2 separate regions of the Homo sapiens genome follow, and region 2 is linked to region 1. Evidence: fine-mapped expression QTL. A gene starts in region 1. The other region holds a variant in brackets. All regions are shown on one strand. Distances are between the middles of the regions. Region 1 holds the start of BAG2 (BAG cochaperone 2). Region 2 holds the start of LINC03001 (long intergenic non-protein coding RNA 3001).

Region 1 (15,743 bases):
ATAGCTGTAATCTTTCTGCCTTATAGCCAAATTTCATTGGTTAAACAAAACTGGCCATAAATCTATACCTAATTGGAAGGAAGCAAGTGTTTTGACCAACTTGTTTTCCCAGCATGGTCTTTCAAGGTCTAGCTCAACGCTTAGCAGCCACATAATGATGAATTAAACAAATGAAAGAACTTTTGTGCGTTTTGAACAAAAACTGCCAATTAAGTTGTTTATCAAGGCCACTAAAAGATAAACAGTACTGAACATCTAAAGAGTTCAGATTTTGCAACTTGTATTTGACACCTCGTGACTCATCCCATGGAAAATGCCAGGCAAAATTATAACTTTTAAATAATTATAAGCTATCACAGTTTTGTGGGCTCCTAGCTAACCTAGGAAATCTGAGATTTGTGTAACTGGATATGTACCACATATTATCTATGTAATGCATTTTATGGTTTGGAGGTGGAGATGTTACATTTTTGTGATTATTTGGTTTGGAAAAATAATTATTTTTATAGGATTCAAGAGAAGACACTTTAAACCTATAACTAGTTGTCATAGTTAAAATAGAGGTGGGGATAAAATCCTTTAATTCCAAGAAAAACCAAAGGAATGTGTTTGTGTTTTGTATCCTGATGCTTTATATAAAATAAATGTGAGAAGCATATGGTGGTTCACTTAAGTTAAGGAATATGGGCTCCTTTGCACTTTTCTCTAACACCCTTCTTCTTTTCCCCTCCTCATCACCCCAAAAGAGCTAACTCGAATTTTATCTCTTAGGTTGAACCATATAGAATTGCCATTTTTGTAGGCACTGTTGTATGGTCAGTGCCTTTCCTAGATTGTCCATCTTTAGACACAGCCAACCACTCTCTATTCTGGGCTCCCTCTGTACCAGGCCAAGTGGATTTAAAATACTTCTGTCTATAACTTTCATCTCTGCTGACTGTAAGCTCCTTAGGGAGTAGGATCATGTTTTATTTATCTTTACTTCAGCAGCACCTAGCACAGTGTTTGGCACAAAATGGTTGCTTGTTAAATGAATAAACTTTTTTTTTTTTTTTTTTTTTTTTTTTTTTTTGAGACGGAGTCTCGCTCTGTCGCCCAGGCTGGAGTGCAGTGGCGCGATCTCAGCTCACTGCAAGCTCCGCCTCCCGGGTTCACGCCATTCTCCTGCCTCAGCCTCCCGAGTAGCTGGGACTACAGGCGCCCGCCACCACGCCCGGCTAATTTTTTGTATTTTTAGTAGAGACGGGGTTTCACCGTGTTAGCCAGGATGGTCTCGATCTCCTGACCTCGTGATCCGCCTGCCTCGGCCTCCCAAAGTGCTGGGATTACAGGCGTGAGCCACCGCGCCCGGCCTAAATGAATAAACTTTTAACAAACTTAAAACATGTTAGAGCCACCAGGACCCATTTCCCTATAACTGGATAAGGGAAATTAAGATAGAGGCTATTTTGTTATAGAATATTGGGTTATTTTGTTGACCCTGAACCACAGAAGCAAAATAATGTTCTAGTCTAGACCTGATAACAAAACTCAAAAAAAATTTTAAGCAACCTCTTAAGTGTCTTTTTATTCCTTCCTTTCCCAGTACAACTCTGTAAATGCCTGAGAAATAGTGGCAGAAGACAGGATAAATCTGCTTATGGCTTTTTGCCTTAGGGTAATTCCCTCCTTCCATGATTTGTGTTATTCTTTGTTGTTCCTCATAGACCAATATCAAACTCTGACCACGCAGGCCAGTCATAACAATCCCATATAATCTAGTTCCTTGTACTTGACAGAGGAAACAGATGCCGCATAATGTGGTGGTGAAAAGTACAGTCTTTGGATTCATACTGCCTAAGTTAAAACTCTGCTGCTTACAAGTTGTGTAATATTGGACAAGTCACTTAACTTCACTGTGCTTCAGCTTCCTCCTCTTAAATATGGGAATATTAGTATACCTACCTTACTAGAATAACATGACATATGATAAATAGTATATATTGGTTGCTGCTAATGTTACTGGGATTATGATGATCATTATGCCATTATTTACTTATATGTTCATCTAAGGTCTACTCTAGAGGTATGTCTGTTAACTAGAGGTATTCTGACTCAAATTGCTGGAAGAGACAGAGGACAGCATTATATAGATAATTTTCTTTGCAAAACCATCTTTCTGTAAATGTTAGCAATATGCCTTATTCTGAGAATTCCTTCAATTAATAGCAGTCAAAACTGCTCTTAATCTTAACAACTTGTGAGAGTCAGACTATTCTCTTCATTTTATATGAAAACTGAGGCTTCTAAACATTAAGTAATTTGGCCTTACATCCACAGTTTTAAAATGATTGGGAACCATTTCTATATGTCTTCTACCTCCTACTACTGGTTGTTTTTGTTGTTTGTTTGCCATAATTACTGCTCTCAAAGTAAATGAAATTAAGGCAGAAAGAATGGTAAGGGGAACACAGAGCTAGCCACAGAATAGAAAAACAAAGACAGATTTTTCACAATTGCTCTTTATTTTTTCATATGGCTTCAAGTTACTGTCTGATGTCCTTTAATTTCAATCTGAGAGATTCTCTTTAGCATTTCTTGTAGGGCAGGTCTACTAGTAAATTCTGTAGCTTTTGTTTATCTGAGAATTTCTTTAGGAATAGTTTTGTCAGATATAGAATTCTTGATCGACATTCTTATTTTCTGGTCTCCATGGTTTTTTATAAGAAATCAGCTAGTAATTTTATTAAGGCTCTCTTGTATGTGATGAGTTGTTTCTCTCTTGTTGTTTTCATTGTCTTTGGCTTTTGACAGTTTGACTATAACACGTCTCAGTGTGGGTCTCTTTAGAGTTCATTGAGCTTCTTGGATATGTAGATTCACCTCTTTCATCAAATTTGGGAGTTTTTCAACCATTATTTCTTCAAACATTCTTTCTGATCCTATTGCACTTCCCCTCTTGAGACTCCTGTAATGCATATGTTAGTTCACTTGATGATGTCCCACAGGTCCCTTGGACTCTGTTTACTTTTCTTCATTTTTCTTTCTGTTCCTCATACTGGATGATTGATTGATTGATTGATTGATTTAGACTGAACTCAAACCAAGACACACACTGGATAATTTAAATTATACTATCTTTAAATTTGCTGACTCTTCTTTGTACTCAAATTCATTAAGCCCCTCTAAAGATTTTTCATTTTAGTTATTGTACTTTTCAGTTCCTGAGTTTCTATTTGATGGGCTTTTAATAATTCTGCCTCATTATTGGTACTCTTAATTTTGTTCATACATTTTTTTCCTGGTTTCCTTTAGTTCTTTGAACATACATAAGACAGTTGGCTTAAAGTCTTTGTCACCCATGCTATATCATGTAGCCTGTTGCTCCTAGTCTACAAACCTGTATAGCATGTTATTGTGCTGAATACTGTAGACATTGTAACATAATGGTAAATATTTTTGTATCTAAACATAGAGACATAAAAATACATAAAAAATGGTATACCTGTATAAGGTACTTACCCTGAATGGAGCTTGCAGGATGGGGAAGTTGCTCTGGGTGAGTCAGTGAGTGAGTGGTGAGTGAATGTGAAGGTCTAGGATGTTACTGTACTCTACTGTAGATTTTATAAACACTGTACGATTAGGCTATACTACTTTTTTTTTTTTTGAGACGGAGTCTTCCTCTGTTGCCCAGGCTGGAGTGCAGTTGTGTGATCTTGGCTCACTGCAACCTCCGCCTCCCAGGTTTAAGCGATTCTCCCACCTCAGCCTCCCAAGTAGCTGGGATTATAGGCATGTGCCACCACGCCCGCCTAATTTTTGTATTTTTGGTAGAGATGGGGTTTCTCCATGTTGGCCAGGCTGGTCTCGAACTACTGACCTCAGGTGATCCGCCCACCTTGGCCTTCCAAAGTACTCGGATTAAGACATGAGCCACTGTGCCTGGCCTATACTACATTTAAAAAAATTTTTTTTTCTTCAGTAATCAGTTCACCTTAGCTTACTGTAACTTGTATAAACTTTAAAATTTTTAACTTTTTGTCTCTATTGTAATAACACTTAAAACACAAACACTTTGTACAGCTATAGAGAAATATTTTCTTTATATCCTTATTCTATAAGCTTTTCCCTACTTTTAAATTGTTTTATTACTTTTAAAACTTTTTTGTTAAAAACTAAGACACAAACACATATATATTAGCTTAGACCTGCACAGAGTCAGGATCATCAATATCACTTTTATAAGTAGCAGTACCCTCTAAAATAATAATAAAAAGTATAGTAAATACATAAACCAGTACCAGAGTTTATTATAATTTTCAAGTGTTATGTACTGTACATAATTGTATGTGCTGTACTTTTATACAACTGGCAACATAGTGTATTTGTTTACAGCAGCATCACCACAAACACATGAGTAATATGTTGCACTGCAACATGAAGATGGCTATGACATAATTAGGCAATAGGAATTTTTCAGGTCTATTATAATCTTATGGGACCACTGTTGTATATGTGATCCACTGTTTACCAAAAGTTGATACGCAGCACATGACCATACTTGCTTTTTGTTTTTTATAGTCTTTCAGCTGGCAAGTTTAATCCCTATAAGCTCACTGGAGGTATGATATCTTTGTATAGATGTTGCTGTACTTAATGATGGTTTGATTTATGATTTTTTTACTTTATAAGGATGTGAAAGCAATATGCATTTAGTATAAACCATACTTCAAATTTTGAATTTTAGTTCAAAGATTTTTATAACTTTAATTGTAAAACAGACGTTGTGATTTCGTATATATATACACACACACACACACACACACATATATACATATAACCTACTATCATTTGTTAAAAAGACCTTTCCCTGTCATTCTGCAGTGCTACCTTTGTTATAAATCCAGTGTCCATATATGCATGGGTCTGTTTCTGAGCTGTCTATGCTGTTCCTTTGGTCTATTTATTCTTGCACTAGTAGCACATTATTAGTTACTGTAACTTTATAATAAGTGTTCATATCTTAGACAAGTCTTGTCCCCTTGTTTTTCTTTGGTAAGAGTGTCTTGGCTTTTCTTTGCATTTCCTCATCCCTTTTAATTCATCTTAAGGGCAACTAACTGATCCTAGAGTGTAGCTTTAACTTGATACACAGTTCATGCTAGTTTATTGTACTTTAAATTAGACAACATAACACTAGTGCCCCCAATCAGAGGAACATGCGGTTGCATCTTAGGGAGATCACTGGTGCCTGTAGCCAAGTAGCCTCTGAGAGACTGTGGACCAGATGGGATGAGATAAATCTGGTGTGAGAAGCTAGTGAAGGCCAAGAAATTGACACCAAATTTCACCCTCCTGGATTTTAGCATCATTCCCAAGGAGGAGATGGAACTCAACTATTGTGAACCCAATAACGTCTGTCTTGTTCACTATTACATTGCTGTTCCTGGTATATAATGGGCATTCAATAAATATTTGTCAAATGAGTTTACATACATCTGCATACAGCATATATTATATGCTTCTCAGATGACATTTATGTGGCTATGAGTTTCACTACCTTAGATGCTAGGATGCTTTAAGCTAATTTTTCCCCAGCTTTATTGAGGTATAATTAAAAATTAAACTAAATTTTTAATGGCCTGTGACATTTTGTCATTTCATGGAGTTGCCTTTCTGTTTAAAGTCTTATATGTATCACCTCAAGTCTTTTAGCAAATAAGTGATACAGATTTTTTTTTAAATGTTGAAACAAATGATTACCTGTCAGTGATTTTAAAAGTTTGTTGACTTTCTACATTCCTAAGTGGAATTAACTTGCAAGTTCTAAGTTCATATATAAAATTCAATTCAAGATCATGTCTAGATTTTCATATTTCAAAATACTCAATTTTTTAGTAGAGAAACTGCCAAGTTATCCTGTGTTTTTCCATTTTGATTTTACTTTCCTTCTTGAAAAGAATACAGTCGATGAAACTTAAATAAATACAGCACATGTTGAGTTTTCTGCCCTAAGTGTTAAAATTCTATGTTTTTTAATGCAGATGTGGAATTAGAAGAAGCTATTAGAAGAAGTCTTGAGGAAATGTAATTAAAGATATTACCACACAACATCAAGTGGCCTTGAAGAGACTGAGATAACGAATTCTTGAGTTTGTTTTCTAAAGGAGACCAGAAATCCACTATTACAAATGTATTTGAAAACATGTTTTTGCTTTCATATGTTCAAAATCTGATCTTTGTTTTGTATTTTTGTGCTAATGTGCAAACATGTACAGAAGAAATAGAATACATGTTCATGCAAATATAAATTATGTATTCTAATATAGGTGTAACAGTTTCCCAGTTAACTTTGAATTTATATATTTAGATTTAAAGGATTAAAAAAAAGGAAAGCTCTTGACAGTTGTTTCCCAAATAGCATTAGTTCTTTAATTTTATTTGTACTGTACAAATGATGCTAGTTTATTTTTTTAGCAGTGAAAATGAATATAAAAAAGGTGACATAGGTCAAGTTTTCCATAAATTCTACTTCTCATGTGGCACTATTATATAATACCTTTGAGATCTTTGTTTATGTTTATTAGAAGAGGGTAATGGAAACTGATCATGGAAACATTTAAAATTTTATCAGCAATGTTCTTTGTGGGTGCCATGCATATGTAAATTATTGCTTTAATTAGAGCAGCACATTGCTAAAATAAAAAATACACCTTAATTTTTAAGAAATAATTTAAATGAAACAATTTCCATTCCTTTTACCTGCTTAGACTTTTATGTGACTTGTATGGTCTCCTGGTTAAAGGGAATGGTGTCAGAATATTTGCATAAAATTATTTTTCATAACAGTCCTTTTTTATATATTGGTGTAAACATAATATTCTTCAAGAAATAATGTTGAAAGCCTACTCAGGAATAATCTTCCTTAACTCTTTAAATTTTTATTTCATGTGAAGTGTTTTCAGTTTAGTTATTCACTGAATTGTCAGTTTCCTTCATTTGGTATTACATATTTAATTCTTAAATATTGAGGCCCCATTGTGAGTAATAAAAAATACGACATAAGTAGAAGACTAAGAAGGGCTTGTCATATTATCTTTGTGTATATGCTTCATGTTATTTAACCAGAAATGTCTTATCTCTAAAAATTTTTAGTAGTAATTATTTACCAAACTTAAAAACATTTCTATAAATATAAAGCTTTTCTTTATATTTAAGACAAAATATAAAGGCTAGAATTTGGTTCCTTCTCTGTAACACTAAATATTTTAGTGTGAAATTGAATTTTTTTATTACTATAGTCTTTTCAATCTATAATTTGTGTTTTTAATTTCTTGATATGTCACTTCTGTTCCTCCCTGCTTGCATTTTTTAAAAACTAGACATTGTGGCTTGAGAATTTATCAATCATCTTTCCGAAATGACCACATTGTGCTTTTAGTTTGTATGTTTAAGTGGTCAAGCAAGGCTCTAGGAGGTAGTCACTGAGCTGGACCTTAAACACATCTGCAGGAGCTCACAAAATGGGAGCAAAAGAGGCATTCCAGAAAGAAGAGTAGTTAAGCAGATGTGGGGGCAGGGCAAGAGGAGACAGCACCTTGTTGCCAGAGATTCTACACAAAGGTGTGATGGACACTGATGCTCTATTAAGAAGCTTTTGTGGTGTGTGTGGTAGAGAATAATTAAGGCTTCTGATAAGACAGGAAAGGGATATTTCATCATGACTGTTAAGAAAAGGTAACTGGGTTGTTTAATGTTTTAATTGATAATTGTCACTGATCGTATTTCTACTTGTTAAATAATTAAAAATCATCTTAAAATTCATACTTTGACTTTAATTTAGACACAAGGAGATGTAATCGCTGTGTAACATCAGAGAAAGCTATATGGATTATCGTCAGAAGTAAATGTTTCTAACATTGACAAAGATGCTTATCTTTTCATTACATCATTCACTCATTAATTCATTCAATCACAAAATATTGAGTACCCACCATGTGCCAGCAACTGTTCTAAGCACTTGGAATATACCAGTAAGCAAAACAAAGCCCTTACCCCTCTGTGGAGCACATATTGGTGGAGAGGAGGGGATTGTACAATGTTAGTAAGCAAGGCAATAAAACTGCATATCTGATGGTGATACGTGTAACGACGGAAAATAAAGAAGGGAAGGGAATAAATAGTGCAGGGACAGGGAGTTGGGGGGAGGCTTGCTATTTTTAATAGGGTTGTCAGAAAAGATCTCACTGATAGGTAAACTTGAGCAAAGACCTGAAGAAGGTGAGGGAATGAGGATGAAAATACATATCGGGAAGAGAGTTCCAGGTGGAGGAGGTTAAGGTCCAGACAGGAGCTTAGTATATTCAAGGAAAAGCAAGAAGACTAGTATGGCTGACAGGATGAGCTAGGAGAGTAATAGGAAATGAACTTACTGAGGTTTTTCTAATGACCTGGGCTTTTACTTTGAGGTAAGGAGCCAGTGAAGGTTTCTGAGAATAAATGGTATGATCTGCCTTATTTAGGATTGCTGTAGTTGCTGCACTGAGATAACATGTACATGAGAGGCAAGAGTAGAAGCAGGGAGACCAGAGAGGAAGGTATTGTAGTATTCCAGGTGCAAACTCACCAGGTAGCTTGAACCAGAATGGTGGCGGTAGAATTGGGAAGAATCTGGATATATTCTGAAGGCAAAATTGATGGGGTTTACTAATGGTGTGGATCTAGGATAAGAGAGAAAAAGAGTTCAGGATGATTCTAAAGTCACTTGATAGACTTTCAAACCACTCACAAAATGTGTTTTGTTTTCGTTTGTGTCATGATAAAGTTATTTTTAATAAGGTCAAATAATCCCCTACCCCAAGAGTTAATTAGGATTTAAAATGAGTTCAGAGGGAATTGGGATCCAGCCTTAAGGGCTTCAACTCTGTTCAAGTATTTAAATGGCTTTGATCTCTGATTAAAGGTGGTGGCTCAGCTTTAAACTATTATTATCTATCATTTTCTGTGCCCTGTACATTGTCATCCTTGCAATGAGAGGCATAGAGCTATCAGGAGAGGGGACTAAAGCCTAACTTTTTAAGTAGACTAATCTTTGTATCCTCAGCTCTATTCCGTCTTTTACCGACAGCTGGTGCCTGACCTAGAGGCCTACTGCATCTTTTTTGTTAACAGGATTTTTAAAAGTTGAGGACTTTTTAATGCCAATTATTTCACTCAGAATATTTATTTATTTATTTATTTTTTTGAGACAAGGTCTCGCTCTATCGCCCAGGCTGGAGTGCAGTGGCGAGATCTCGGCTCGCTCAACAGGAATAATTTTAATAGCAAAAATTTAAAACCCCTTCATTAAGCCAGGCGTGGTGGTTCACATCTGTAATCCCAGCACTTTGGGAGGCTGAGGTGGGAGGACCGCTTGAACCCGGGAGGTCGAGGCTGCAGTAAGTCGTGATCGCGCCACTACACTCCAACGTGGGCGACAGTTAGACCCCATCTCAAAAACAAAAGAAAATTAGAATGGTAAAAATGAAGTAAATTCACTTTGCTTCCCACATCTAGCTAGACAGGGAAAGATGGAGTAGCTTTTTCTTTTTTACTTCATAGCTTCAGTGTTGTCCGGGCTTTCATTACTCTCATCTCAGTATAAAGTGGTAACAGGAAGGTCAGGTGAGTGTGGGCTGCCTACGAGCTGTACTTACTGCCTTCTGTTTCACAAAAGGACGTTTTCTCCCCATAATGTCGTTGTTCTTGCTTTGAATTATGGGTGCTGGGAGAAACTAAACGAAGCCGTCACTGAGCAATACACCCACAGCCCGTCGACCGATAGGAACCTTCGCGTGGGGGGAGTTGGTTACTTTTAGGTTGCATGAAGAGGCGGGGCCTCGCGGGGCGGAGCTGGGGGTGGTCTGTGGGTCCGCGCGGGCTTCGGGTAGTTCCTGGGTCCGGGGAGCAGACGATCCGCTAGCCACATTAGGCGCTCGGTCTCTGCGTCCGCCCCTCCCGTGCCTCAGAGACTTGCGCTCCCCAGGCCCGAGCCCCTGTCGGCCCATCCTCGAGCCCGTGTGGCTCGCGAACCTCTAACTCCAGCCGCTGCAGCCCCCTCCCAGGCCCGGCGTCCCCGAGCCCCGCGGGCGCCGCGCCTGCCCTTCTTTGGCTACGCTGCAGCCGCGGTGTCGGCGAGTCCTCCCGGGTTGCCCCCGCGGGCGTCAGAGGGAGGGCGGGCGCCCGCGTGGTGACGGCGACGCCTGCAGCCCAAGGAGCGCTCCACTCGCTGCCGCCGGAGGGGCCGGTGACCTCTTGGCTACCCCGCGTCGGAGGCTTAGATGGCTCAGGCGAAGATCAACGCTAAAGCCAACGAGGGGCGCTTCTGCCGCTCCTCCTCCATGGCTGACCGCTCCAGCCGCCTGCTGGAGAGCCTGGACCAGCTGGAGCTCAGGTGAGCTCCGGGCGGGCGGTCTCGGGCGTTCTGCTCGCCGCGCGGGCGGTTCGCGGGCGGTTAGCGGACGGAGGCCGCGTGTGGCGGGCCGGGGCCTGGGGCACAGTGAGGCTGCGGCAACCGAAGTTGCTTGTTGAGATTTGTTGTGGATGGACGTGGTGTAGTTTTGTTTGTTTCTTGGATTATCTCCCCTAGTCCGAGAGAAAACGCATTCGATTTAAGCTAAACCTGTGAGGGCGTTATCGGTGGCCACACTTTGATTAATTTACCTAGGTGTTAGGGAGCGGAAAAAAATCAGAGGAGATAAAAGTTACAGTGAGATTCCATGCGATTAAGGACTGTGGCAGCTTGGGTCTGCAGAACTTCTAGAACCTTCTGTGTGGCCCCAAACGTTTTAACTTACTCTTCTCGTTATGCATTTTTTAAGGGAGGCAGCAGTTTACAGTGGCCCTCCACGTGAAGTTAAGTTTCCTTGCTTCAGAACAAAAATGAATAAAACAAAACCAACCCAGCAATCCATTGAGAGCAAAGATTAGACAGGAGTGAGGGGTAGGCAGTAAGTTACCGGGTGCTTCGTGCAGCAGAGACGTTGCCGCTTCTGTTTCTCCCCTAACCTCGCGGACGGGATTCAGCGGTTCCGTTCGTCTCTCGGTATTTATTGGGCACCTCCCTACATAGAAGACTAAGTGCTAGTTACTGGCCTGAAAGCATGAAAAGATAGTTTTCCCCTTTTCTTGCTTAAGAATTTATTTGGTAATACAGTAGTAGACTTGTATAGAATTTCTAAACAATTTAATGTTAATAGATTTTTGGAAAGACTTTAACGGTGTATTGAAAAGTTTTATCTACTTCCTGTGAACGTTTGTCTCAAGTTACTGTGTAAATTTTGTGAGCAGGTGTAGTTAAAAGAAAATCTTGTTAGGCACCTGCAATTCCGTGAAACTGTACACAGGAGTTGGTTACATAGTTTTGTCTAGGTTGTGCATGAGCAAAGAAGCATGTGAGCCAAAAAGTTTAGGAAACACTGCATGTGTGTCTTTATCTTCCTACATTAATACACCCAAACATGAAGTATCTGTTTGCTGAGAAAATACTTCAATAACCACGGTATCTCTTAACAAGTGAGGCATTATTATTGTTACTATTGGGAGAAAAGAGCCAGAGAGTGAGAGATTCTCCACTCAAAATAATTTCTTGGATTATTAAGCCCTACACCAGGTTCTGGGGTTCCACTCAGAATGAGGCAAGTGGAAGAGAGAAGTAATGCTTCCTCATGGATTTTCACAATACTGGCAAACCTGACCGTTCCACTCCCAGAAAAAGTAGAGCGAAAGTAGAAATTGGTGGCCTCAGTTACTTGAAGTCCCTCTAACTGGTAATGTTTCTTTTTAGGGAGCCACATAACAAGTAACACACATCTCTCCATGTCTTCAGAACGTTGAGGGCATGTTCTCAACCACTTCATTCTCCTCTCCCTTAGCCAGAAAGAAAAGTTTTCCTAAAGGAATGGGGAGGTTGTTACTCCACTCCGCCTTCCTTCAAGCTGAGTCATTGTCCTCCAACTTGAATTAATGCCTCACATGTGGTAGGTACAAAAGCACTCTGAAGTGCTCCTCTTTAAAAGAAAGCCTCAGGTTTTGAATATTATTATATTCTACTGTTTGATTAATGTAAAATGAATTCTGATTGCACATCAGTGATTAAATTACAACTTGCTTAATTAACATTTGAGCTGAGGAGAAAAGTGATTAATATGTGGCTGTTCATTTCAAGGACTTTTTTTTAGTAATTCTGGACTTTTGTAGGCCTTTTTTCTTCTTTTTAAAAAAGTAATACTAGCTGAAAAGGAAGGATTTCCGAAGGTAAGCAAAAATAGAGAAAAATGCTAATGTAGATCCTATTAAAGTTTTTTTTGAAACCACATGGGCAATGGCACTGAACACTATTAAAAACTAGAATCATGCGTAGAAGATCGATTTTTAAAAGAAAACATGAAACTCATATGTAATTTTGCTCTAATAGTTTGATTTTGTTGACTAATAAAGTAGTGTAACTGTGTAGAATAAAACCTTATAGTTTGTACTTAGAAGTGTGCACTTAATGTTCCCTAACCACACTGATCCTGTCAATTGTGGAAGAAATTTCATACTTTATGACCTGGAGTATGAACTGATCTACATGATGTTTAAAATGTTTGGCAGCAGTTTTACAAACTGTTAAAGGATTTCCATTTATCTCTAATGGAATTTATCAATACAGTAGCCCTTTTTTTTGGACTGCATTTTGTCTTCTGTATTTCTTCCTTCTACAGAGGTGATTCCCTTTTCTCCGTTTTGACGATCAGTTCTAAATGGACTCTGAGTTTTGCATTCTTCAGTGGCTCAAACCATCTTGCTTACTATTGTTACTTTTTAACAATTATTGTAATTTGTAAAAAATACTATGATATTACGATTCTCTCTCTCTGTATATATACAACGTTTTCCTGGCTCATAACTCCCATAACCCTTGTTACAGTCTTATGTTATAGTTCCTGGCTCATAACTCCCATAACCCTTATTACAGTCTTACGTTATAATGTTGGGGTGCTTTAGGCCTCAGGAAAAAGAATCTCTCTCTCTGACCTTCTTTCACCTGCCTTACCTCTAGTCTGATTGTGGGTCAAAAGACTCTCGTTCCAGAGAGGGTCCTGCCCTATGCCCTGGAGGAGGGCATTTAGCACCCAGAGGCCAAGAAGAATCTGAATAGACTGGCCTTGCTGGGTTTCCCCATTCAGTCTGTTAGAGTGAGGGCATACTCTTTTTGTCCAATCACTTTTCTACATGGTTGTCATTCATGCTTATATAAAAGAAGCAAGCCTCCATAAGAACCCAAAAAGGACAGGGTTTGGAGAGCTTCTGGATAGCTGGACATGTGGAGGCTCCTGGAAGGTGGTGTGCCCCTTCCCCCTGTACCTCACCCTACACATCTCTTTATCCATGTCCTTTGTAATACCCTTTATAATAAATCCGTAAATATAAGTAAGTGTTTCCCTGAATTTTGTGAGCTGCTGCAGCAAGTTAAACCCAAAGAGGGGGACATGGGAACCCCAATTTGAAGCCAGTTGGTCAGAAGTTCTGGAGGCCTAGACTTGCAACGGTGGAGGGTGGGGTCTTGGGGACTGAGCTTTCAACTTGTGGGATCTGATACCGTCTCCAGGTGTAGGGAGTGTTGGAACTGAGTTGGGGGATACTTAGCTGCAAATCCCCCACATATTTGGTCACAGCCTTCTGTGTTGTTACAGTGTGAGAGCAGAGGAAAAACACAGTGTGAGAGTTTTTTCTAAAACACAGGCTAATGTTTATTCATTTAATGTACACGGACTATGTGCCAGGCCCCATGTCGTTGTTACTATTATCACCATTCTACAGATAGGGAAATTGAGGCTTAGAAGCTTAAATGACTTGTCCAAAGTCACACAACTAGAGAGTAGTAAACTCCAAATTTGAACCCAGGAAGACTGGCTCTCCAGGCTCTAATACTTTATGCCTGAATTTTCTTAAATATATCACATTTCAAAATATAGAAATGATATATGGATGAATAGATGAGCTTCCTCTAAGAGATAAAAATTCAATCTAAATTGGCCTTTAATTCAGTGGATATTGAACACCCACTATGTGTTAGGTATTGGGTAGCTCCTAGAAAGCTCAAGATGGTAATGAAGATGTTTGGGGGATGGGTTTTGGAGACTGGCAGAGGGGAAAATGATAGGACTGGGAGATTGGCTTTTCATATGTTTCCCAAAACTTATAACACAGTGGCTCCTTCTGCCTTCCTGTCAGCCTTTCACTGTGGCTTAACCTGCACCCAGGTAGTGAAGGGATGGGGTTGGGGGTGATAGGGATCATTCGTCTGGCTTAAAGTTTCATGTTAGGGTGTGCCAGTGTTCTAGGAGTCACAAAACAAGATGGCATCATAGTTAATACTGTGTGACAGCCTGTAATTTAAAAGAACACTTCATATATGTTATTTGAAACTTTAAGAACCCTTCGAGTTAGGTGGAGGGCACATACTCTCTCTCCTAGAAATGAGGGAAGTGAGGTCCAATTAGGATGAAGTGGCTTGCCTGAGGACATGCTACTGAAAAGTGGCTCTTCACACTAAAAACACTAGTCCCTTCTTTTACACCAAAATGTCTTGACAGTAAATGTAATTTAACATTTTGGTGATTAGGAAAACACTTCAGAATTTTACATTGCCTAAAAGTGATCATTATAGCATTCTTTTGATATAGGAGTATGGAATAAGAGACAGAACTATGAGTTTTAAGAACCTGTTTTAGGCCAGGCGTGGTGGCTCACTCCTGTAATCCCAGCACTTTGGGAGGCTGAGGTGGGCAGATCACCTGAGGTCAGGAGTTTGAGACCAGCCTGTCCAACATGGTGAAAACCATCTCTAATAAAAAATTCAAAAGTTAGCCAGACGTGGTGGCGCATGTCTGTAGTCCTAGCCACTCGGGAGGCTGAGGCAGGAGAATCACTTGAACCCTGGAGGTGGAGGTTGCAGTGAGCTGAGATCACACCACTGCACTCCGGCCTGGACGACAGAGTGAGACTCCATCTCAAAAAAAACAAACCTGTTTTAGAAATTATTTCTTTCAAATCATGGTATGAGCATTTGCCATTTTCCCTCCTTTTTATGAAAGCACAAATTTTCATCATTAATAAATAAGCCCACATTCATAATGGTAAGAATATAATAGCTATTAATACTATAAATATATGCCAGTGCCAATTCTAGACACATTATACATATTAACTTGTGTGTGTGTGTAATTTTTTTAGTCAGTGCTATCAGTCACTGTTAAACTCTACCTGCTTTACTTCATTTAGTCACAAGCACTGTTCCCTTATCATCCCTGTTTCATAGGCGACTGACCCATTTGCACAGCTAGTAGTGGCAGTGCTGGCGCAGTTTTCACTGCATACTCTATTAGCTGACATATTAATAGTAGCCACAGTTTGCGCAAAATTGCTGTTGTACTCCTCCTAAGTCTCCCAGCAGTTTGCCGTTTCGATACTGAGACTGCAGAGGTTTGTGAGGTGCCCAAGACCTGGGTACTAGCTGAGGATGCATGCGCTCCGGTTTTGTCTTCCTACTGAGTACTCTGACTAAAATTTCTTTTTGTCAAAGCCTACTTAGTTGTGATTTCATGCAGGGAGTTTTCCAGGAGCACAGCCCAGGCCAGCCTTGATGTGAGGAAAAGTTCTTTCCCAATTTGGACGTGTAGCTGCTTCCGGGATCTGTTAGTAAAAACAGAACTGCCCTTCTCCGCCAGAAGTGTTGC
Region 2 (15,743 bases), 91 kb after region 1:
TCATGATTGAACCTGGATTAATAGTTACTAATTATATATATGTATAACTATCAATAGTGTAATCATGGTTATTATGAAATATTGATATAATTATTAATGCAACTAACTACTCTCCCTATATTCTCTGGTCTCTAGTTTCTATCAAGGAAGACTGAGCCCACACAAAGGCTTAGGATAGGAGGAGAATCAACATTCAGGGCTGCCTCTGAAACCCTTGTGCTATTGTAAACAGATTCCTCTATTCCTCCAGAGAAAGTTGGAAAGTGGAAAAGTTGCCTTTTGCTTCTTAGCCTTAATGCTCCTTCTAGTTTTTGGCTTTAATTGAAATCCCAGTCTCACAGGTTACCAAAGACATTGTTGTCATGATGTTGTGGTGATGATGATGGGTAGGTGGTGAGCTGTTGCTCAGCTGTCTGCACTACAACTTCTAAACCAAGAATTGTCCAACTTTAGTGAACATCATCATTTGGAGGGCTTCTGAAAACACAGATTTCTGAGCTCCATCCTCATTTCTGATTCAGTGGGTTTGGGGTAGAGCCTAGAATTTCATTTCTAACAAGTTCCTAGGTGACATTCATGCTGCTGGCCTGGCAACTACACTTTGAGAATCATTGTTCTACCTCATTACTGATTAAAATGCTCAACTTCCTTTGCAACCCTTGGCAATAACCTATACCATGCACTCTCCAACTAACAGCCCAGTCGCCACATATATACACTTTTGGAAGATATTATGGCAACAAGTCCACTGTTTCCTTTGCTACTCCAACTTCTCTATAACCCTAACTTCCACTATTTCCAATTCTCACACTTCCTCACCACAACTTCACCTACTCTTTGAGCACAAGGACAGTTTTGTGGCAGGCCGGGTCTCACTAACACAGGCCTCTGTAACAACTGTTTCAGCACTGACGGAGTGGCCAAGTTAAATATTAAAAGCTGATCGAGCTAGTGCCCTTATACAAAGGCTGGAATGTAACAAAAGCCCACCAGGAGTTTTGCTCAGGCCTTTCCTGGGCCTTGAAGTGTGACAAGATAACAAATGAATTCTTAACAGAGGCCTGTTTAGGATTAAACAAGTTTTATTGGAGGTCTGAAGAAACTCCCCAGACCTCCACAAACAAGTTTATTGGGGGTCTGAAGAAACTCCCCAAACCTCCATGATTTAGCAGGAGACAAGATAAGGGTAATCACCCAGCACCTGGACCCATTAGGATTAAGTAAATTTACCGAGGCTCCAGAGGAAGGTCTTCAGGATTCAGATCTTAGTTATAGATTAGAAGAAGTTAATCACTTATGTCTTCAGATGAATGCACACTAACACACAGACATATAGCTTAGAAGGTATATAAGCTCTGGAAAACTTTGTAACTTTGAGTTGGCCTGGCGATATTTTCCAGGCCTTTTCCCTGTACCCAGTTACAGAAATAAACTGTCTTCTTTCCCAGTTCGTCTGCCTCTCATTATTGGGCTGCGAGAATAGGCAGCCTGACCCTCAGCTTGGTCCGGAAACAGTTTGGTCACCTCAATTCCTTTATTTAATTCACCTTTTGATCTCTTCTTGGCTTCTAGGCCTTCTCCATACTGCCGAGGATCCATAGTTGATTATTAGAATTACTCTCCATTGGGCCGGGTGTGGTGGTGCACACCTGTAATCCCAGCACTCTGGGAGGCCGAGGCGGGCGGATCACGAGGTCAGGAGATCAAGACCATCCTGGCTAACACAGTGAAACCCTGTCTCTACTAAAAATACAAAAAATTAGCCAGGCATGGTGGCGGGCACCTGTAGTCCCAGCTACTCGGGAGGCTGATGCAGGAGAATGGCGTGAACCCGGGAGGCAGAGCTTGCAGTGAGCTGAGATCCCGCCACTGCACTCCAGCCTGGGCAACAGAGCAGGACTCTATCTCAAAAAAAAAAAAAAAAAGAATTACTCTCAATTTACTTGCATCCCTATATTTCCATCCTATTTCCAATGATCAATGTTAGGTCATTGCCACAACCTGCCTTCTCCATTTTTACACTGGTTGGGGAGGGAGTGATAAAGTTGATAAGAATGTAAACACAAATAACCACAATATACAGCAATGTCCCATTTAAATCATAAGCATAATACAGAAATTCGTGAACTTGTAAAGGCAGGAAAGAGAACATCTAGTTAGAATGATCATAAAAAAACTTCAAGGCTATTATGGCAGATACAAATATGAATAAGACACTACTAGACTTTTTTAAGCCCTTAAGTATAGGAATGGCATAATTTATATTCATTTCACTGATAGCACCAAGCGCTTTTCAAAAGAGAATTAATGAATTATGTCTCCTCTAGTGTGATTCTTTATCTATTACACAGTGCAGTGTGAAATGCCCTAAGGGGGCTTAAATGCTGAGTAAACAAATTTTTAAAAGCAATTTAGACACGCACACACACACACATACACACACACACACACACACACACATTAGATGTACAAGCATAGAAAAGTCTTGGAAGGATAAATACTGTCTTGCTTTATCCATCAGCATACTGATTACAGTTGTGATGAGGTAAGTACCCACACCTTTTGTAATGTAAAATTGTGCAGCAAAACAGCAAAAATAAAATATTACTTGGGGGAAAAAGACAATTAACTTGTTTTTGGCCAAAGGTGATAGAAACAATAATACTTGCATTTCCTGAGGCCCTACCATATGTCAGGCATATGCCACCTTATTTACCCCTCACCATCACCCTACAGGGCTATATTATGTATTATCTTCATTTTGCAATTGGGAATAGTTATTGTATTTCTTCCATTATAAGATCAAATTTAAAAATACTTTAAATCATTGGAATGTGTATGCATGTTATCATTTATGGTGTCTTAGACTTGATAAAATAACGTAAGTCACATTATTATAAATCATTAGATATAATATTCTAACTTATGGTTTAATTGGCTCTAAATTCTGTGCTTTTCCTCCATTGGATTGCGTTATCTTTTCTAACAAAAGTAGACTTTTGCTCCTTCTCCAAGTTTTCTTTCTCTCTTTCTCTTTCTCTTACACACACACACACACACACACACACACACACATGCCATGCAGGCACACACACACAGTTTTTCCTTTCTCTTTCTCTCACTTTCACACACACACACACACACACACACACACATACACTCTTACATCTTAGTCCAAAGTAAAAATATCCTGCTTATCAGATGCTCTGCCTTATTTTCAAGGCTTATGCTTATTTTGAGTGTAGCCATGGTGAACTTCATCTATCTAACTGATGTGCTAGTCTAGTCTCCTACCTACTGCTAAATTACTCAATTAACCTATTTTGTTCAATTCCATTTTAGCCACAACCCTTTAGTTTCAGTTGCCTTGACATTGGGGAAAAAAACCCTAATCTTTCTTATCTATTTGGTTAATTGGCCAAATTAATTCTGACAGATATCACATAGGTATTTTTGTTTTTCTTGGGGCAGCTAGCCACCCTGGGCCAGTGCTTCTCAATCTGGGCACACAAGAAACAACTGGTGTATCTTCTTGAAGCAAGAGTTCTCCTTGAAGATTTACTTGAAGAGAAAGTTGAAGCAGGACACTGAAAAATGTAGATGAAAATCTTTGAAAGAAGTATTTTTTATCTTAAAAGAAAAAAGAAAATATTATGAAACAGAATAAAATATCTGTAGGCATTTTTTTTTTTTTTTTGTGAGATGGAGTCTTGCTCTTGTTGCCCAGGCTGGAGTGCAATGGCGCAATCTCGGCTCACCGCAACCTCCACCTGCTGGATTCAAGCGATTCTCCTGCCTCAGGCTCCTGAATAGCTGGGATTACAGGCACCCACCACCAAGCCCGGCTAATTTTGTATTTTTAGTAGAGACAGGATTTCTCCATGTTGGTCAGGCTGGTCTTGAACTCCCGACCTCAGGTGATCTGCCCGCCTCGGCCTCCCAAAGTGCTGGGATTACAGGCGTGAGCCATCGCGCCCAGACTGTAGGCATTTTTAAGGCACAACTTTAATGGAATTTTGAACTGGTGGTAAACTACTCATGGTAACCTGTGGTTGAAACCATAGGCTTTGGGGCAAGACTGAAACCTAGCTCCTCCCTTTTCTAACTGTACCCTGGGGCAAGTTGCTTAGCCTTTTTGTGTCTCCATTTCTCATTTGTAAAATGGGAATAATATCATCTGCCTCATAGAGTTATCATGAGAATTAAGTGACCAGTATATGTTAAATGTTGGAACAGTGGGTCGTTCATAGTGAATTCTCCCTAATGTTAGCTATTTTCATTTTCATTTATATTTCTAGATATCCCAAGGGTTATTATTTTGTCCTCCTCTTTTGTTAAGTTGTCTCAGAGCAAAAGTTTGAGCAGCCCTGCCTTAGTCCTTCCCCAGGATTCTCTCCAGTATGCTGCACTTGGTTCTCATCGGCTGGTCTTTTGTAATGTTTCAGGAATGCACTGTTTTCCTTTTTCTCTTCTCTGTCTCTTTTTTTTCCAGCACCATTAAAAACAAAGAGTAGCTGTTTTAGGAATTTGGGAAGTGAAGAAACAAGACATTCGACTGTGAGTTTCACCCATGTTTAAAACGAAATAACCTAACAATCGGGAGTGGCGTGCTACCGTTAAGATTTTGGAGGTAGAGACGTGAAGATTTTCAGTCGCAACTCCCTTTAGAACCATGGCTTGAACCCGTAAAGTATGAGGGCTGCCCATAAAACTTTCTCTTCTAAGATGTGGGATATGTGTAGTCTCATCTAGTTATGGCTCATCTGGGAATGGATTTTCTGACGCAAATGAGGTTTAAAAAAAAAAGGCATAGTGTCTCTTTATTTGGTTAACACTATTTCTGCACTTTGTTTTTCCTTGTCAGCTTTAAAAGGAAGAGAACAAAAGCCAACCACCCTGCCAAAACTTGGCAGTAGAATTTCAGTGAGTGAAAATTCTCCACCTACAGTAATGTTTGAAGTGGTTGCACAGTGAGGGCCCCCCAGCCCCCACCCCAACCCACCCACCCCTCCACTGCAGGCCATTCTTGACCTGTTAGGACACCATCTTATGCAAAGTTAAGAAAGCCCAAGAGCCTAGAACCCACAGAAAAAGGCCAGTGTAAGACTAAGGGCATCTATCCCCTGTTCTTTTTTCCCTGTTCCATCTGATATTATCTTTGGCTCAATAGTCCTAGAACTCAGAAGGCTGATACTCCAATGTACCCTAGAATTGCTAGACTCAACTCTACCATCTCCTCCGCTCCCAGAACCTGGACTCTTGGAGGGCAGACAGCAGGATAGGAGCAGCCTCAAGGACGGGAAAGCAATGGAGACTGACCTATCCTTTGCTATTTCCCTTTGCCACCAATATCTTCTAGTTATAGGATTTTTGCACCTAGAAATAAAATATACAAATATTGACCATAACTTACAGTAATTCAGTGCTTCTAAGTTCCCATGTACCATGGCAAACACATGGATATATTATAGCAACATCATAAAACAGACATGATTATTTCTATACCAAGGATAAATCTCAGGTTTAGAAGAAAGGTTGGAAAAATTCTTGAAGGTCACAAGCCAGAAGTACATGGCACTGAAACAGATCTGACTCTTGAGTCCAAGCCTATTGTATTGACTTGCTATCAATGCATAACAAACCGCATCACACAAAACCAGTAGTATCTTTGAGTCATCTTGGGGGTTGGCTGATTTAAGCTGGGCTAGGCTAGGTGGCTGGGGTAGCTCTGCTCTATATGCCTCTCATCTTCCTCCTGGGACCAGTAGGTTGCCCTGGACATGTGTAAGAAGAAAATTGGAAATATGCAAGGTCTCTTAAGGCCTAGGCTTGGAACTGGCACACTAATTTCTGCCTCATCCTGTTCGTCAAGGCAAGTTACAAGGCTGAGACTAATGTCAAAGAGCAAAGAGACATACCTCATTTTTTTTTAAGAGATAAGGGTATGCCTGTTGATTAGGTTGTACTCAAATGCCTGGGCTCAAGGGATCATCCTGCATTGCTGGGACTACAAATGTGCACCACTGTGCCCAACTGAGATATACTTCACCTTTGTGGGGTGTAGTGGATGCTGAGGTGCACTTCCTGGTCCCTTTCCAGAACCAAGGCACTTACTTTCTCAGCTGCTAGGAATATTGCTTGCTGATGATGGCTCACCAAGTCCACTGACTCCCATCCTTTCACCTCCACCCTCGCCCTGGAGTCCCCATCCCACTGCCCACCAGGAATTGTCCTCAGCTGAAGGGCACTGCTTTGCCCAAGGGTGCCCCTATGGTCAACCCACATTCAAAGACTAGTCAGATGTGAGTATGAAGTCTGACCTCTTGCCTCAATTCAAGACATCTCTGAAGAGCTATCCTAGCATCAGAGCTTCCCATAGGATTGGGTGAGGCCTGGGTTGCAATTAAATTAGTCCCATTTTTTTCTGTGTCAATCTTGCTTCCCCTATTCCCTTAAAATGGCTGTTTCCAAGAGCATTCCTCAATAATTACTCTATGAAATCTAACCTTCAACATGAGAGGGACTCCAAAGCCAATGGTGAAGGGCAAAGATATAGTATAGGAAAGAATCAAAACCAATAACGCAATCTACCACATCTTTGCATTTAAGAAGTAGATTAAACTGCATCCCAGGTCCAAAAACAAAAGCATATAGTGGAGCAGACAGAATCTCTGTCTGACATGTCTTAATGTATATCTAAACCATTGATATTGGACCTTGAAATATATTTGACTTGGAAAAGGCATGTGGTCCTGAAGAGTTGTGGGCAAATGGAAACTTTGTAAATTGAATTAAATTCCAAATGCATGGTGGGGGTTTGGTATTCTAAAGTGAAAAATGTGGTGAATTATTTTATGAATAACCATTTTAATAACATTGATTTTTCTATGATGAGTTTTACATATCAGCAATTTATTTCATTTTTATGAACCCATTCTATTTTTAAAATAATTCTGTGTGTGTGAAATTATAGCATGATGTCATACGTTTGTTTTTTGGTCTCCAATCCTTGGTGGATTTCCTTTGCATAAATTTTAAGTTTACATGAACCTGAAAAGATTCCAGGGACTCTGGGCAAAGCCATGGGTGCATGGTTGTTGGAAATGGGTACAATGGATATAAGTAGCCGGGCAGACAAACATCCCAGGAGAAGAAATTTTGGCCAGGTCATGTTCCTTTGTCCAGTAAAAAAAGCAGGAGGAGAGAAAATAGATAATTTACTGTACTCAGGGATAGGGATTGATAAAATAGCTACAGCAGAAGGAAAAGTCAGCAGGAAAATCAAGAATTCTAACAGAATATTGCGGATATGACTGTTCATGATCTCCAGGGGTATGAAGGGCAAGCCAGGCTAAAAAGTGGACCAGAACACTGGTGGTTGAGGGATTGGAGGCCCCAGTGAGAGGAGGGAATAGGCACACAGCAGTGACAGATTCAATGGAAGTTTTTCCATATTTATGATATGCAAGCCATGTGTATTTTCATTTCCCTCATGCTTTTCTGTGAAGGTTGAGGCTCTCCCATGTGATAGTTTCCTCTATCAGTCAGGATTCTAAATATTCTTGATATTTTAAAGAAGAGATTTAATACCAGGAGATGACAAAGGTAAGAAGCCTAAAGTGGGAGAGTAAGGCATCCTTGAGATTATCAAGAGCAGGAAGCTGCTACCACTGCCTAAAGCTTAAGGGACAAAAGGAGCCAGGCCACCAGGGAGAAGTTGGAACCACAGAAGCTCTTGGAGCAAGAGCTGGGTCCATAGAAGAGATGGCCGCTGCCAGAGACAATACTTGAAGCTGAGAGAAGTGGGGAAAAATACCCAGCTTCTCCCTTTCTGCTCTCTCTTCAGGGCCATCCAATGGCTGAACTGACCCAGAAACCAGAGGGCAAAGGAACAAGGAAAAAGTAATTCTCTGTGATACGGAACAGGGTAGAGCGGGGACAGGGGATAAATCTAAGAGCAAAACAGGACAAGACTAGCACATGGCCTCAACTTCTCTGCTCTCCATGGCAATGTCTTCCTCCTCTTCTGTTTCCAGGAGTCTCTAATTCCTGCCACTTATTGCCCCAGGCTCCCTTGATAGCTGGTTTCCAGGTGGGGGCACAGCCAATGGGTGGCAGCAGCAGGAGACTGGGAGATAAAAGGAAAGGTTGGGTTATTTTTCCCCATTCCCTCCCTGCTTTGGAGCCACCTCTCTGGAAGGCTCCCTCCACCATTATAGATCCTGCTGGTGGTCTGTCTTCCGTGGCTCCAGGTCTCACCAGCTCTCACCAGGTCTCTCTCTAGGAGTGGTTTCCTTCTATTGCTGGTCTCTGGGTGTCTCAACATCCCTTGCTAATTCCCTTAATTCTGCCCACAGCTATGTCAGCAGTATCTTTGTTAAAGTCCCTTCATTTGAACAATTTGGCTTGAGTTCTGTTTTCTGCCAGAACCCTGGCTAGTATCCTGACCTACTGTGTTCTTTTCCAAGCTCCTTTCAAGTGTCATATTTTCCCCACTGTTGCCCAGATCA[G/A]CAGTGTGGTATAGTAGAAAGAATACTGGACTTACTGGCAGACAGACATGGTTTTATTTCTGATTCAGTCACTTACAGAGTTACTGGCTGGGAAAGTTATTTAACCTCCTGAGCTTCCGTTTTCTTGCTGGTAAAGTGGAAAGGGGATAATGATGAATTTCAGTTGGATATATTAGAAATCCGTGCCTGACCCATGTGTTCCAGGCCTCATCTGCCAGTTGTCTTTTTTTTTACATACCGATTATTTATGGCGTAAATCCCCTTCCTACTCGACTGAAAGAAATGAACCCCCTTCAAAGTATTTCCAGTTATTTCTAGAAGTTTCCAAAGAAGTTCCCTTGCTCACCAGTCGTTCTTTCACAGTTGCCATCGTCTTCTGCCCTGTTATTTTGCTTCTGCCCCAGCTCCCACATGTCCAGCTTCTGCTTGCAGGGCCACTTGCTGAGGCTTTGCCGAGGCTGAAACTTTTCCAGGGTCACTGTCCATCATGAGAACACAGCACATGCCAAGGGTGTTGCCTCTTAGTGTTCCCAAAGAGTCTGGTCCTTGGGAAGCCTCCATTTGGCCTCTGTGGTGCAGAGAGGAGAATGTCCTTCCCTGGCTCAGCCCCAAATAGCTGGGCTTGTGCCTAGAGCCTCTGAGAGTCTCTTTGACTATTTCCTCAGCTAATTTCACATGTAAACAAAACAACTCACAGAGGTTCTGCAACCTGCTTCCACCGTCTTTCTAGAAGGAGGTCAGAAAGGGAACAGATGCTTTGCCCTTTTCCCCTCTCCCCTCCACAGCTCTCCCAACCCCCAAACCCATCTTCCTCTTCTATTTGCTAAACTAAACATTTTATACTTATCAACCACTGTGGGATGGAAGTGGGATGGTCAAGGAGGGAGGTGAGGTCTAGATGACTTCTGTATATGAGCCAGAGTCCAATCCATTTATATATGAATGACTCCTAGTACAATATCTGACACAAAGTGGATTCTCAATGGTTGATGAATACTATTATCACGTAAATAGGAAACCACATTTCCTACCATTTAGATAGTATAAGTTCTTCAAAGTTCAATTTATGTGTCATTTCTTACCAGAAACCTGGCCCTAATCCCAGTAGGATGAGGTTACTCTTTGCCTCTGTATTTGCTTCTTAGGGCTATGGTTATAATATACCAAGAATTGGCTTAAAACAACAAAAATTTATTCTCTCACAGTTCTGGAGGCTGGAAGTTTGAAATCAAGACATTGATAGAGCCATCCTCTCTCTGAAGGCTGTAGGGAGAGTCCTTCCTTGCCCCTTCCCAGCTTCTGGTGGCTCTTGGCAATCCTTGGTGTTCCCTGGCTTAGAGCCGCTTCACTCAAATCTCTGCTTCTGATGTTGCACAGTCATCTTCTCCCTGTGTGTCTTTGTTTCCACGTGGCATTCTCTTCCCTTATAAGGCCATCAGTCACAGTGGATTGAGGCCCACTCTAGTAACCTCATTTAACTTGATTATATCTGCAAAGGCCCTGTTTCCAAATGAAGTCACATTCTGGGATCCTGAGAGTTGGGATTTCAAAATACCTTCTTGGGGGGTGCAATTCCACCCACAACACCCTGCAATAAGATTTTAAAATTGAATAGCAGCAATCTTATTTCTCTTTTGACATCTATCACATCTAGCTTATTTTATAGTAATCTATCTTTTATCTCCCCCTACAACACTGAACAGCCCAAGGACAAAACCTGTTTCTGATTCACTTTTGTGTCCCTGACAATACCTACATGTCCCATAATAGGTTTGATAGGTACTAAGTGACCGGGCTGAGGCTTGCACCCTCCCCTCCTGACTCATGATCAATCCTTCAGACTAGAGCGTGCTGCCACCAGCCTGGTACATGTATTTGTGAGTTCCTTGGGTTTCAACTCCTTGGTTGATTTATTTTTTGAAAACACTATATATCAGGAAGATGGGTTTGGCTAGCTGAAATAGCTGGTTATAGCTTGCCTTGGGTGGTTAAATATTTATGTCTTCTGAGAGTGAACAATGGGCTTTACTCTACCAGGGAAATAATCTTGTTTGTCCCCATTTATTGGCTCTTTTTTCCTCTTTTACATTTTCAGCATCCTAATGATGTCCTTAGTGATAGTTGCTATGGAAGTATTTTAGTGTTTTCTGCAGTGTTGGGTGGTGCAGTACCTGAAGCCCTCTTTAGTGTGTATTTATAATGACACCAAGCCATGAATTTCATTTTAGTGGTAGCTTTCTTGCTTAATAACTGGTTGTCGTCGGGGGAGTGGTCTGCATTTATTTTGGCCTCCTGATTTATCGCACTGATTTTTCTTCTCCTTTTCATTGTTCCTGGAGTGCTCGTCATCACTTCAAATACTCAACCCATTATTTCACAGAATATAATGACAGAGCCAGCCCCATCATTTTATCATTGAATACACTGGTAAACAGTTGCAACCCCTCTAATACCAATGTGATGAGGGGTGATTTAAACTTGTAAAAGTCAAACGCTTTTTTTTTTTTTTTTTTTTTGCGATGGAGCCTCACTCTGTTGCCAGGCTGGAGTGCAGTGGCACAGTCTTGGCTCACGGCAACCTCCCCCTCCTGAGTTCAAGCGATTCTCCTGCCTCAGCCTCCTGAGTAGCTGGGACTACAGGTGCGCCCCACCAAGCCCAGTTAATTTTTGCATTTTTTAGTAGATATACGGTTTCACCATCTTGGCCAAGATGGTTCCAATCTCTTGACCTTGTGATCTGCCCACTGGCAGATCTTGTTTGTCCCCATTTATTGGCTGGGATTAAAGGCGTCAAAAACTTTTAAGAATGTATAGTTTGGAGACTGAGACTCAGTAATGGGTGGAGGAGAGAAAACTGGGATATCTAGAGAATTGGATTGTGATGTCTTCCGTAAAATAGTAATAGTAGTACATGTTCTACCTACTTGATAGGATTGTTATGAGGGTCATGTGATTAATGTATGTGAAAGCAATTTGTAAGCTGTACAGTGCTATAAAATGTTTATATATGTTATCATTAATAACAACTAGATTGTTAATAGTCCTGATTGCTTTTGACCTGGATGTCTATGGAGAAGCAGCTTAATCTCTGGTGAAGACATGACTTGACCTTTTTACTGAACCATGTGGGCAAATGATCAGGCCATTATGCAGTATTTTCAAGGCCATCAGGTTGTCTGTGTTAGCCTCTTTCATTCGACTCTTACCTTTTATTTGGGGAGGAGAAGGGACAGTATGACTTTAATTATTAAGCTGAAGAAGTGGAGAAATCTTGATTTCTTGAATAGCTTTTTCAAGTCAGCTCTTTAATATAAAGTCTCTCTGGTGCATCTGTTGCTAGCTTGCCACGTTGGTATGTGCCATTTTAATTTTGTTCCTCCAAAGGTTTGGGTTATTTTTCCATACACTTTGGTTTACGGTAGACGCTCAACCACTTACTAGAATAGAACACACTTAGGCATGTAGACTTTGACAATTCTAGGGAAAAGTTGTGAATGCATTTAGTGATTTGATTTGTGTGTTTTAGTTTAAGTAATCTATCAATTTATCCTATAGATAGCCCAGAAATTGATGTCACTGCAATTAAACAGAATTTTTTTATAAAGAATTCTGTGCCTGACAACTCTAGACATATTTATTATGCAGCTTCTCTTAAAGGATTTTCAATTTGCTCATTTGGAGCAAATTTTGTGTGTTAAATGCAGTTGGTTCCTAGACACTGACTCATTTTCCAAATCTGAGTACACTTTTTCCTCAATTGACTTTCCCCTGCCAGTATGTCATCCAACTATTCTTTAATGTACTGTCAAAATATGGTCACCTCATCATTAACAGGAAATGGGCTTCTTGCCCAGTCTTATGAAAGTAGAATAAAATCAGACAGTTTGATTTTTAAACTATAAGAAAAGGAGAATGAAAAAACAGCAAAACTTAACTAATTTCCAAGCTCAGGGCTATTTATAAAGAGCTTGAACAAATAAGACACCCAGAAACGAAAGGAAAACTGCAATTTGCTTGGCTTTGTGTAGAATACAGAAGAATTTCCATTTTACTCTAAATATAAAGTAGCTGCAATGTGAGTCAACATAAATAAAACAAAGAAACCAAGTCTTTATGGAAGATGACAGCAGTTTCATGTGGGCAGCTTCATGTGTTTAAGCATCTCAATGTGAAAACTTGGCCATTTGCTCAAGATTGTTTCTCTGTATTTAGATTTTTGGTGCAAATATCATCTCTGTCTCTAGGAAACAAACCCAGACGGCCTACAGAGTCAAGAATGAAGAATTCATTTTACTGAAATGTTAATGTCAACTCTAAAAATATCAGAGTTTTCAATTTTACCTAATCAAATAATCAGCTCGACAATTTTTTTGCAACCACAGTTGCTTATAGGGCTGACCAAAGTGACGATTTGTTTAAGACCAAGTTCAAGGTTAGTTAAACATATAACATATAGCGCAGATTTCATTTAACCATGTGGATAATTCAGCCAAATATGTTTTTCATGAATTGCTGTGAAAAAGAGTAATTTGCCGCATTTGAATTATCTGATTACCTGTCCTGATCTTCTACTTCACTTTGAGTGTATATGTAGACTTTATTAGAATAACATTTTGTAGTGTAAAAATAGTCTATGTCGCCACAGCTTCTCTCTACTTGCTAGTTCAAAGCTTTCTCTTTAATTTTTGATCAGTGCCAATTTGGAACCGATCTCTTTTAGCTCAGTTTCCTCATTTGTGGAGTGGGTATCTTAACGTCCAAAATAATAAATGATTAAAAATAGTTAAAAAAAGTTAAAAATAAATGATTAGTGGAATGATGAAAAGTACTTCACACAGAATCCAGCATATAGTGAATGCTCAATGAATTTTAACTATTTTGACTTTTACTGTTAAAGATGTGACGTGGGAAGTCATTAAACCTTTTGTAGCTTAGTTCTTTAGGTATGAAAGACAAATGTCTTGATATAAGTCTAAAAATGTTCTTAAAATGCATGCAGTGCCTCCACATGCAAAGTGAAGCACAGAATTTAAGTAATTACCTTCATTAATTAATCAATGCATTGCTTTACCTAATAGGTTGATACATGTTTTAGAGCAAAGCTTGATGCACAAAGGTCCACTTTGCTTGGATATTAGTTTTATTGTCATTTTGCCATTTTTTTGGTATTCATTATCTACTGTGATGGGACAAGAATTTGGGTGAAAGTAGTTTACTTGGGAGGTGATCCCAGGAGGCATGATCAGGGAGTGGGCAAGTAAGACTGGCAAAAGAGGAACACCATTAAAGGATACATTGAGAAGCGGGTTACTGTCTTGGGCAAGTGAGCTCAATCCCAGTGGCATCTCTTTGAGAGGCTGCATAAAACCTTTGAGCAACCTCATCCATTTAGTCCAGCACTGTACTAATATTATCACTTTCTACGAGCAATACCACATGAAAAAATTTGGGGAGCATTGCTATAAAGAATGGTTGAGAGTGCTGAAGAGAAGCCAGGAAAATAAAAAGCAGAATAAATAAGAATGGTTGACATGCACGGTGGCTCACACTTGTAATTCCAGCACTTTGGGAGGCGGAGGCGGGAGGATCACTTGAGGCCAGGAGTTAAAGACCAGCCTGGGCAACATTGCGACACCCCATCTCTACAAAAAAATTTTAAAATTAGCTAGGCATGGTGGCACATGCTGGTCTCGAAAACCTGGCCTCAAATGACCCTCCCGCCTTGGCCTCCCAAAGTGCTGGGATTACAAGGGTGAGCCACCGTCCTGGCCTGGTTACATTTAACTATGTTGCAGAGAAGATCGTGGATTCATTCAAAATGAAATCATTGTTGCTGGGTTCTTGTAAAAGTAAGGTTGTTGAGCTATGGGCATTGAGCATATGAGAACAGAAACATAATCCTTTTAATCTACTCAGCATTTTGCAGGCTTCAGAGGAATAATGGCTGTTGTTTCTGGCTTTGCAGTTCAAGTGAGATGGATTTAGAAGAGCTCCAAGCACATTCCTAAAGTATTAGGTGGTTGGAAGGTTCTATGAGTTACGTAGTTGTTACTTCAGTCTCCAGCGGAAGGGAGGAGACATGTCTTCCTAGTCATATTCCTCCTTGGTCTCAAAAAACCACATTTTGTTCCCTTCAAGTCAGGAATGTAGCCAGAATGCCCACCAGGTGGTGCTCCAATTACTTTACTGTATAACATTTTGTGACCTCCTGTAGGATATAAGAATATTAAATGTTAGAGTTAAAGGCAGAAAATATTCTGTAACTTGAGCCTCAAGATGTAAAGACTTCATATATTGAGAAGACTAATATGGCTTTTAAAATATCACATGACATCAAAATGTCTATGCATAAAAGGTGAAAAAAAATGCTATCTCAGAGCCAAGGTTAACATTCTTGGTAGAAAAATAGATTACAATCAATATTTTTTAATTGAGTTTTAAAAAGAATTCTGATGCACTAGGTTCTGAGGCATTACAAGGATATATATGTATATATATATGGCAATTTCCCCCCACATTTACTTATTTATTTTTAATTTTATTATTATTATACTTTAAGTTTTAGGGTACATGTGCACAACGTGCAGGTTTGTTACATATGTATACATGTGTCATGTTGGTGTGCTGCACCCATTAACTCGTCATTTAGCATTAGGTATATCTCCTAATGCTATCCCTCCCCCCTCCCCCCACCCCACAACAGTCCCCAGAGTGTGATGTTCCCCTTGCTGTGTCCATGTGTTCTCATTGTTCAATTCCCACCTATGAGTGAGAACATGCGGTGTTTGGTTTTTTGTCCTTGCGATAGTTTACTGAGAATGATAATTTCCAATTTCATCCATGTCCCTACAAAGGACATGAACTCATCATTTTTTATGGCTGCATAGTATTCCATGGTGTATATGTGCCACATTTTCTTAATCCAGTCTATCATTGTTGGACATTTGGGTTGGTTCCAAGTCTTCGCTATTGTGAATAGTGCTGCAATAAACAAATGTGTGCATGTGTCTTTATAGCAGCATGATTTACAGTCCTTTGGGTATATACCCAGTAATGGGATGGCTGGGTCAAATGGTATTTCTAGTTCTAGATCCCTGAGGAATCGCCACACTGACTTCCACAATGGTTGAACTAGTTTACAGTCCCACCAACAGTGTAAAAGTGTTCCTATTTCTCCACATCCTCTCCAGCACCTGTTGTCTCCTGACTTTTTAATGATCGCCATTCTAACTG

What was found.
Region 2: its variant is fine-mapped to the expression of BAG2 in aorta (GTEx, PIP 0.99).

What each region holds. Positions count from the first base shown.
Region 1 is chr6:57,162,397-57,178,139 of GRCh38, forward strand. BAG2 (BAG cochaperone 2) reads left to right here and starts at 9,930. Exons shown (of 3, transcript NM_004282.4): 1 at 9,930-10,414. The coding sequence starts at 10,302. ZNF451 (zinc finger protein 451) reads left to right here. Exons shown (of 15, transcript NM_001031623.3): 15 at 6,027-7,909. The coding sequence ends at 6,073. ZNF451-AS1 (ZNF451 regulatory antisense RNA 1) reads right to left here and starts at 9,817. Exons shown (of 4, transcript NR_110742.1): 1 at 9,678-9,817; 2 at 8,609-8,702. RefSeq lists silencers at 9,943-10,022, 10,073-10,342 and an enhancer at 10,077-10,834.
Region 2 is chr6:57,253,590-57,269,332 of GRCh38, forward strand. LINC03001 (long intergenic non-protein coding RNA 3001) reads right to left here and starts at 9,757. Exons shown (of 3, transcript NR_109774.1): 1 at 9,714-9,757; 2 at 8,857-9,078; 3 at 6,935-8,128. It also overlaps a transcript of PRIM2 not described here. The variant G/A (reference allele first, on the strand shown) is at 8,511.